2 separate regions of the Homo sapiens genome follow, and region 2 is linked to region 1. The links come from fine-mapping of genetic effects on gene expression. A gene starts in region 1. The other region holds a variant in brackets. All regions are shown on one strand. Distances are from middle to middle.

Region 1 (5,000 bases):
GCTGAGCTCCTAAAATCTCTTCCAGCTCTAACATTCTATGATTTTGATACTTCAGTGGTATTTGAATAGTACTGCATGGACCTACATATAGCACTTTACGGGTGACAAAGCATCTTTGCATCCATTACGCCACCCGATTCTCATAATAACCTTTTGAGGTACCAGGGTAGGTTTTATTTACCCTGTTAGACAAGTGTAGAAACTTGTCCAGGTCACAGCTAACGAATGACAAAACTGGGGATGGGATCTAGTATTCTAGGTGTTAAAAATCGGTGTTCTTTCAGTTGGGCACAGTGACTCATGCCTGTAATCCCAGCACTTTTGGAGGCCAAGGTGAGAGGAGGTCTTGAGCCCAGGAATTTGAGACAAGCCTGGGCAATACAGTAAGACCCCATCTCTGAAAAAAAAAAAAGTCAGTGTTCTTTTAATTACACCATGCAACCTTGAAACTAGAACTGAGAACATGAGGCAGTGTTTAACTTAGAGATTTTAAATTATATAATTGGCAGTGTTATACAGGAGTAAGCAGGTTGCTGATGACAGTCAGGATCTGTTGATCCGAACAAGGAAAGTATGTTAGTATCCATATTGGTCCCAAAATCAAGTATTAGCAAATTGTGTTAAGTGAACATAGGATAAGGCCAAGAAATATGACAGTGTAGCGTTACTACTAAGCTTCTCCGATGAAATTCAAGGTTTTTTTCTCTCTTCCAATTCAATTTGTTAGGCGACACTTCAGTAAACAGTAGGGGCAAGATAGAGTGGAAACAGCCAAGATTTCAAGCCTAGTAATAAGCAACTTCTACATCCCTACTCATCACAGGCCTTTTTGTCTATCCCAGAAACACATACTTTTCCTGAAAAAACAAAGCACTGGAAGGATTACCAAGTCTAGAAAGAACCCGCCCTCCCCAAACTAGGTGGTTTTCTGATAAGCCTAAGGTATGTTTCACAGGATCACTGGTTGCCATCTCCTACCCAGCAATCTGGAGAGGTTGACCAGAATAAAGTATTTTAAAATCCAAGCGCTTAGTCTAACCTGGAATTTCCTCAGTTTCTAGATGGCTCTTTGTAGAACAATGCAGATTCTCAAAGGTGACCACAGTTAAAGAAAAAATTACAAGCCATTGCGCTAGAGAGAGCCATCTGCAGTTTCTCCTTAGACAGATGTTCAGATGGCACACATGGCCACTAAATTTGCATAATATTTCAGGAAGTTCACAGATTTCCCGAAGCCCACTCATGAATCACACTTCTGGTTAAGAACTCCTAGATTCATATGCTAGTTGGTGATAAGTGCTTTGGTATATAAACTTAAACCAAAAATTGGTGGAATAATTACCACCTTGGATAGGATGGTCAGAGAAGTTTTATCCGAAGAGGTCACTTTTGAGCAGAGACTTGAGCTGGTGCAGACACCTGAGTGTGCATTCCAGGAAACGCGAACAGCAGGCGCAAGGGTCCCTATGAGAGAATGTGCTTGGCGGGCTCGACGCACATTTATTTACTTGGGACACACCCTATTTTGGTTTCTCTTCTCCACTTTTCCCCTCGTTCTTGTCCCCCCTTTTCTCTCTCCTGGGCCCTGGATCTCCTGAGCGCGGAGGGCTACGCCTCCTTCTTCCTCCGGACTCACCAGGGCTGCCAGCTTAGCTTACATTTTCAGGGAACAGGAAACTGAGAGTCAGGAAAGGTGAGCTCTTCTACCTCGGGTCTTGCCATTTTGCATGTCCTGAGTCAGTCACTGGTTAACTCTGAACTTCAGGTTCCTCGGCAATTAGAGATTATAAATAGCCTATACAGCCTATTCCAGATCTGAGATTCCAACAGCCAAAGTCTTTTCACTTCCTTTCTTCCCCCTCTCCTTCACTTTCCCAGCTTTCTTCTTAACCAACAATCTACCCGAAACCGTCGTTTCTTGGTTAGCGCTTGCGCAGACAGGCGAGAAAGGTAAGTTTTGACCCAGCTTAGCAGCCGTAGTCAGCCGGGAGTGCTGTCGTGGGGGATTGTGGGAAAAGATGGCGGCTGCCGCACAATCCCGGGTTGTCCGGGTCCTGTCAATGTCACGTAAGTGTTACCGGGAACGGCGGCCCCTGGTCGGGATTCCGAGACGGGGATTTAAGGTTTTGGAAGTGGCACCGTGCTGCAGCGGTCACGCCAACTTCCTAGGCACACTCTGGTTTCTCTAGGTTTGGAGCTGCCTCAGTCTGGTTTCTCCTTTCGCTTTCCGCTTCCCCGGCTCACATATTCAATTGTGCACCACCTTGGGAGGGGACAAAAGATCTTAAGCAGCTGTAAGCGAAGAGGAGAATGCGGGGGACACGTTAGGGATCGAGAGAATCAGAATTCTGATATGGTTGTAAGGGTTTAGGGTTATGAGAAATATTTGTATGGGGCGGGGGGAGAAATGTGTAAGGGAGGGAAAAAAGGCTAGTGGCGAGAGGTTTTCTTAGATTGATTTTATGACCTTGTGCAAACCCTTAATGGGTCTCAATTCATATGAGCACAATGGAAATGATAATATTACAATACCAGGGAGTCTCTGATAAGATTAAATGAGCTAATATTTGTAAAAGCATCCTTTTACCCAAAAGCGTCTCTACGGATGTAGAATGTGTTCGGCAAAGTGCGTTGGGGTCTGGGGGAGAGAGTGATGTTTGAGGAGAGAAGAATCAGGAGCTTGGTGGAAAGGAAAGTGAAGAATGAAGGCTATGTTAGAATTTGTTAGCATTATTTAGTTTCTCTTCTGTTCTGATTGGATCTGCTCCCACTCCTCAAACTGAAAACATACATTTGTCCTTCCACTCACTAAAAAGCAAGGAAATTAGAAATACGGTTACACTTCATCATTGTCCTTTCACCCTCTACTCTTCCACAAACATATTCCAATCAAACCCCCAAAGTTGTATTTTTCTTAGTGTATTTTAGTCGTTACAGAATATCATTTGCTTTCAAAATTGGCTCATGTCAGAATCACTCGTAAAGCTTTATAAAAATTAGAAATGAGGACTGAGTGTAGAGCTATTGAGTCAGAATTTGTGAGATTAGCTCCTTGCACCTTAAATTTTTAAAAGCACCACAGATAGGCTTGATGTTCAGCCTGAGGCAAGAATTAGGAGTGTTTAGAGGATCCTTTTTTTTTTGTTTTCCATCTTGGGTAGAACTCCTGCATACCACTGGGAAGGTGGTGGTGCACATCACTTATAGTGGATGGTTTTGTAGTCACAATGTCTTTGCAAAGACATTTGCTGGTTCTTGTTAAACTATTACAATTGTATGACGTAATGTAGATTGTGAATGGTAATCACTATTTATTGAGTACCTGCTATCTGCAATCTCCAGTTCTAGGTATTTTTATTAATTTTCCTCTTTTAACTTACTTTCCTCTGACTGACACCATAGCTTGTGTTCTTAACCACTCTGCGTTATTGTCTGGTAAAGTAAGTTTTTGAGTAAATTCTGTAGAGGCAAGTCTAGTATGTAACATAATCCACACACTATAGGACAGAACTGTGTAAGACAACTATATATAGTTAAGTGTGGCAAGACTATTAAGTATCACAGGAAATCATAAAAGGGAAAGATTAGTATCATTTGAGGTACTGAGGGATGATTGGAAGACCAGTGGAGAATTGTAGTGCTCCCACTGGTCTCTTTAGGGCTGTTATGATCTGGAAAGTCCTCTGGCAAAGACAAGTGGGTGAGAATGGAGTCATGAGGTATTCAAGAGGCAGTGAAATGACTACCTGAATATCTGGGATAGTGGAAAAGGAGGTTGAATGTGTTAGATGGGATCAGACAATGGAGACCTTTGAAAGCCAAGCAGAGTTTAGATCGGTAGTCTCCAAAGGGAGTTGTGCAAGAGGACCTAATAAGTTGTGGAAATATAAATTAGAACTCCTAAAAATTGCTTTCTATAGTAATAATAGCTAACACTTATGTAGTTTAAACTGTATGCCACACACTATTCTAAGTAATGTATGATTTATAATGTGTATATCATATTGGTACTACATAGAACGTGCATATAATTTTTTAAATAAATACTTAAAAAAATTAATGCAGTGTGCAAGCAAATATGTCTGGACTATTGGTTTGGGTATTGCAGTAGGAAACTAATGTAGGTTTTTAAGCAGAGAAATATAATGAATATATAATTAATAAAGAATATCATTCTTCTAATAGTACTCATAATAAATGGAAGAAAGTGGAGAGGCTGGAACCAAAGAGAGTAATAATTTATATTTATTGAGCACCTAGTATTTGCAAGGCACTGTGACAGATGCTTGCCCATATGTTATTCTCATTAACCCTTTAAACTGTGAGCTTCATGAAGCCAGGGTTTTGTATTTTACTGTGATAGTCACAGTTTCTAGAATAATTCTTGGCCCATAATTATTAAAAAAAAACAATAGCCATGTGAGGTTAGTGTGACATTACCTTCTGAGAAATTTCAAAGTAATAAAAGCAACTATTATTCATAGAATGCTTAATGTGCTCTAGGTAATGTGCTACGTGGTTTATGTATGTTTAATCCTCTTAACAGTCCTTTGAGGTATTAATTCCTCAACTCAAGTAATTCTTCCCAGTTCATTGACTCTGCCATCTTTTGCCTGTCTTATCCTATGTCCTCATTTCCTTACTCTTCACTCTTATCATTCCCTTTTATGCATCCTCAACTCCCCAGCCCAACTCCCATTGTCGTAAAAAACATTGACCCTGATTAAACAAAACTTTCCACGTAATTTGCTGCCTGCCACTGAGCAATGGAGAACGGGGCTAGGGAAAACTTCAGACTAACTGGCCTTATTTTAAATTCATGAATACAAATCTCAAGTAGATTTTCAGTGCTACATTTTTCTAGGAAATTTGGTTTCCTTGTCTCCATAATCATTACTTAACATAGCGAGTTTCCTAAAACCTCTAACATGTGCTTTTGTCTCATTCTCAGCTTTACAGAGAAATCAAAGGAATCAGATGAGAACAGTCATTTTCCCACC
Region 2 (5,000 bases), 26 kb before region 1:
TGGTATTATTTTAGTCTACTCCTTCTACTTATTAAAAAAATTAATTGTAAAACAGCCTCAGGCAGGTCCTTCAGGACAAAGGCATTGTCATCATAGGACATAATAGCTCCATGAGTGTTACTTACCCTGAAGACCTTCTAATGGGAGAACATGCAGAGGTGGAAGGCAATGGTATTGATGATCCTGACCCTGTGTGGGCCTAGGTCAATATGTGTGTTTGTATCTTCATTTTTAATAAAAAATAAAAAAATTAAATAGAAAAAAGCTTATAAAAAAGAATATAAAGAAAATATTTTTGTATAACTGTACAACGTGTTTTAAGCTGTTATTACAAAAGAGCCAAAAAGTTAAAAAAAATCAAAACTTTGTAACATAAAAATGTTACAGTAAGCTGCTAATTTATTATTGAAGAAAGAAAAATATTTTAAAATATTTATTGTAGCCTAAATATACAGTTTTTATGAAGTCTACAGTAGTGAACAGTAATGTCCTAGGCCTTCGCATTCACTCACCACTCAGTCACTCACTCATCCAGAGCAACTTCTAGTCCTGTGAGCTCCATTCATGGTAAGTGACCTATACAGATGTACCATTTTTTATCTTTCAAACCATATTTTTACTGTACCTTTTCTATATTTAGATATGTTTAGATCCACACATACTGTGGTGTTATAATTGCTTACAGTATTCAGTACAGTAACATGCTGTATATAAGTGTGTAGCCTAGGAGCAATAGGCTATACAATATAAGCTAGATATGTAGTAGGCTATACCAGCTAGGTTTGTGTAAGTACCGTCTATTATGTTCACACAATGAGGAAATCGCTTAATGACACACTTCTCAGAGCATATCCCCATGACTAAGCAATGCATGAGTGGACTAGAAAAAAACATGGGAAAGTTTTGCTAATATCGTAAAGTGGAGAATGTTTTCCAAAATATAACATAAAACCCAGCAAAAATAAAAGAAAAATGTCTCATATTTGATGACATTTGTATGGCAGAAACAAACTACAACAACAACAACAACAAAACACCAATCAAAGGACCAATGGCAAAGGAAACATTTGTATTTAATATCATAAAGGTTGATTCCTTGTAATATATAAAACTCTTATAGATCAATAAGAAAAAGGCCTACAATGCAATAAGAAAATGGGCAGAACATAAAAAGAATACCTAGGAATACAGCTAACTAGGGAGGTGAAAATCTCTACAATGAGAATTACAAAACACTGCTCGAAGAAATCGGAAATGACACAAACAAATGGAAAAATATTCCATTCTCATGGATAGAAAGAGTCAATATTGTTAAAATGGTCATATTGCCCAAAGCAACTTAAATGTTCAATGCTATTCCTATTAAACTACCAATGAAATTCTTCATAGAACTAGAAAAAACTATTTTAAAATTCATATGGAACCAAAAAAGAGCCTGCCAACAGCCAAGGCACTCCTAGGTGAAAAGAACAAAGCTAGAGGCATCACATTACTCAACTTCAAACTATACTCCAGGACCACAGTAACCAAAACAGCATGGTACTGGTACAAAAACAGACATACAGACCAATGGAACAGAATAGAGAGCCCAAAAATAAGGCCACACAGCTACAACCATCTGATCTTTGACAAAGCTGACAAAAACAAGCAATGGGGAAGGATTCCCTAATTCAATAGGTGCTGGGATAACTGGCTAGCCATATACAGAAGATTGAAACTGGACCCCTTCCTTACACCATATACAAAAATCAACTCAACATGGATTAAAGAGTTAAATGTAAGATTAAAAACTGTAAAAACCCTAGAAGAACACCTAGACAATACCATTCTGGACATAGGAACCGGCAAAGATTTCATGATGAATACACCAAAAGCAACTGCAACAAGAGCAAAGCTTGACAAATGGGATCTAATTAAATTTAAGAGCTTCTGCACATCAATAGAAACTATTAATAGAGTAAACAGACAACCTACATAATGGAAGGAAATATTTGCAAACTATGCATCTGACAAAGGTCTAATGTTCAGCTATAAGGAACTGAAACAAATTTGCAAGAAAAAAACAACCCCATTAAAAAGTGGGCAAAGGACACAAACAGACTCTTTGCAAAAGAAGACATACGTGTGGCCAACAAGCATATAAAAACAAGCTTAATATCACTGGTCACTAGATAAACGCAAATCCAAACCATAATGAGATACCATCTCACACCAGTTAGAATGGCTATTATTAAAAGTAATGGCAAGGATGTGGAGAAAAGGCAACACTTATACACTGTTGGTGGGAGTGTAAATTAGCTCAACCATTGTCAAAAGCAGTGTGGCAATTCCTCAAAGAGCTAAAAACAGAACTACTGTTCAACCCAGCAATCCCATTACTGGGTGTATATCCAAAGGAATATAAATTGTTTTACCATAAAGACACATGCACGTGGATGTTCACTGCAACACTATTCACAATAACAAAGACATGGAGATAACCTAAGTGCCCATCAATGGCAGATGGGATAAAGAAAATGTGGTACATATACACCATGGAATATTATGCAGTCATAAAAAAGAACACAGCCATTTCCTTTGCAGGAACATGGATGCAGTTGGAGGCCATTGCCA[T/C]TGGCAAATTAACTCAGGAACAGAAAATGAAATGCAGCGTGTTATCAGAAGTGGGAGTTAAATGATGAGAACACATGGACACAAAGAGGGAACAACAGACACTTGAGGGTGAAGGGTGGGAGGAAGAAGACACTCAGAAAAAAATAACTATTGGGTCAGTACTAGGCTTAGTACCTGGGTGACAAAATAAGCTGTACAACAAACCCGTGTGACATGAGTTTACCTATATAACAAACAAGCACATATACCCCTGAACCTAAAATAAGTTAAAAAAAGAAAAATGGGCAGAAGTTATGACAAATTAATCCACAGAAGAGGAAATTCAAATGGTCTTATATGCAAAGATACTCACCCTTATTCCTAATAAGACAAAAAGTAAAGCAACTTAGCAAATTAAAAATTTTAGCATGCACTGTTGGTTAAAGTGTGAGGAAATAGTCCTCTTACACTGTTTTAATAGGTGTGTTAATTGGTACAAGCTCTATGGAAGGCAATTTGGAAACATGTATCAAATTACACAAATAATATTCTCAGTGACCTTGAAGTTCCTTTCCTAGGTGTATAGCACATGTGAATACATTTGAATCTGTGCAAAATTATGTATATTCAAGGATATTCAGTGTAGCATTGCTTACAGTGCAGAATAGTGGCAACTGAAATATCCATACATAAGGGAGGGGTTAAATATATAAAACATATATAAAACATATATGATATATGAAATGGCTTCATATATTATAAAATATATAAAGCCATTAAAAAGAATGTGGCAACTCTATATGTTGCAGAAGAGGATATATATATAAAAAATAATAATTTGTGACTTTACGTGTGTGTGTGTGTGTGTGTGTGTGTGTGTGTGTGTGTGTGTGTGTGTATTGCTGGAAGGATAAATAAGAAATTGATCCAAACAATTTTTTTCTCCAGGGAAGGCAATGGGATGGAGCACACAAATGAGAAAACAACCCTTAATTTTCACCATGCATCCTTTTGTACTTTTGAATTTTGAACTATGCACACATATTATTTATTCAAAAATAAATACAAATGTATTTAAAGACATCGGGCTCACAGACATCCCAGTGACAGCAGGTTCAATCACCTGAATCAGTATGAGAATATTTGCATACATTAATCTCTTTTCAAAAAGTCATTTTTAGGTAGTTTCTTTGGTGTCTATGTCATCCCTGTTCTTAAAAATATACTAATATTCAGTGCGTCTATTTATTAGTTGAAGTTTGAACATGCTGCTTCTCATTCCTTCTACTCTTAGAGGGAGTCAATAAAATAGATGACTGGCTTTATCTTTAGAGTAGACAAAGGTGTGTGTGTGTGTGTATATAAAAGTGGGGGACTGCAAGTCTATTGTCCTATTTTAGATACATGTTTCAATTTAAAATAATCTAAAACAACACATTCCAATACAAAAAAAGTCTAAAGCCAGAATGTATTATGTATGTTATATATGAGGGGTTTGATTTCAAAGATGGCTACAAAAGGCTTTCTCACACATTACACACCTGAAAGCTATGCTTACTTTTAGATTTTTTTCATCAGTTTAAATTTTCTTCAGCATATAGCCTCCCACTCCCCACCTCTACTAATTGCTATATACTGTAAAATAGTTGTCTGTTTCACGGATTGGAAACCCTGCGTGGAGACAGAGCTTGCCAACGACCCTTAGGAATAGATCTAATATTGGAAGTTCACACTGTCTTCTAGCCTAACTTGAATGTGCACACAACTCACCTGGGTATTTTGCTAAGATGAAGATTCTGATTCAGTAGGTCTGGAGGGAAGTGTGAGATTCTGCACTTCTAAAAAGCTCCCAGGTGATGCCAATGTTGTAGGTCCACAGACTACACTTTAAGTAGCACGTGTAGTCTTTTTAAGACCAAAGTCAAAGACCATACAGTTTCTTGTTTAGGCTTGATATAGCCTAATCTGGATGCTCTGTAATCGTGTGTTTTCCCAGTCATCAGATAAATATAGCGACCCAGTTGCAAGCGTTGCTAATACCATGTAAATACCACTTAATTAAGCAGAGAAAGCCTGTTTTTCCTTATCTTCTGATTCCTATGATGATGAAATTTTCTAAATAATTCTAGCCTCTTGTGCCACCCTTTGCTACTTAATGATTAACAGCAGTTGGTCCACTTTTCTCAATCAAGAGGAGACAATCAAAAGCACTGAGGAAGAGAAAATGAGAGAGAGAGAGAGAGAGAGAGAGCAAGCGAGCGAGAAGGCAGAGAGGAGAGAGAAGAGAAGGTTGTAGGGATGGTCTTTTTAATTCCCGCACTTCAGTGTGAAGCATCTGGGGTAAGTGTGCGTGTTCTCCAGACTCAAACCCTCCCTTTGGCGCGCAGTTCTGATGCTTACTGGGCACC

The links. PIP is the estimated chance that this variant, and not a neighbour inherited with it, causes the effect.
Region 2: its variant is the best candidate, but not a certain one, in a credible set for the expression of AKAP3 in thyroid (GTEx, PIP 0.53).

The regions. Positions count from the first base shown.
Region 1 is chr12:4,647,109-4,652,108 of GRCh38, forward strand. AKAP3 (A-kinase anchoring protein 3) reads right to left here and starts at 1,943. Exons shown (of 6, transcript NM_001278309.2): 1 at 1,637-1,943. It overlaps NDUFA9 (NADH:ubiquinone oxidoreductase subunit A9), which reads left to right and starts at 2,006. Exons shown (of 11, transcript NM_005002.5): 1 at 2,006-2,067. The coding sequence starts at 2,019. RefSeq lists enhancers at 1,368-1,417, 1,698-1,907, 1,776-2,431.
Region 2 is chr12:4,620,875-4,625,874 of GRCh38, forward strand. The region is part of intron 5 of AKAP3 (A-kinase anchoring protein 3); the gene reads right to left. Among named protein-coding and RNA genes, the nearest start is that of AKAP3, 26 kb to the right of the region's middle. The variant T/C (reference allele first, on the strand shown) is at 2,614.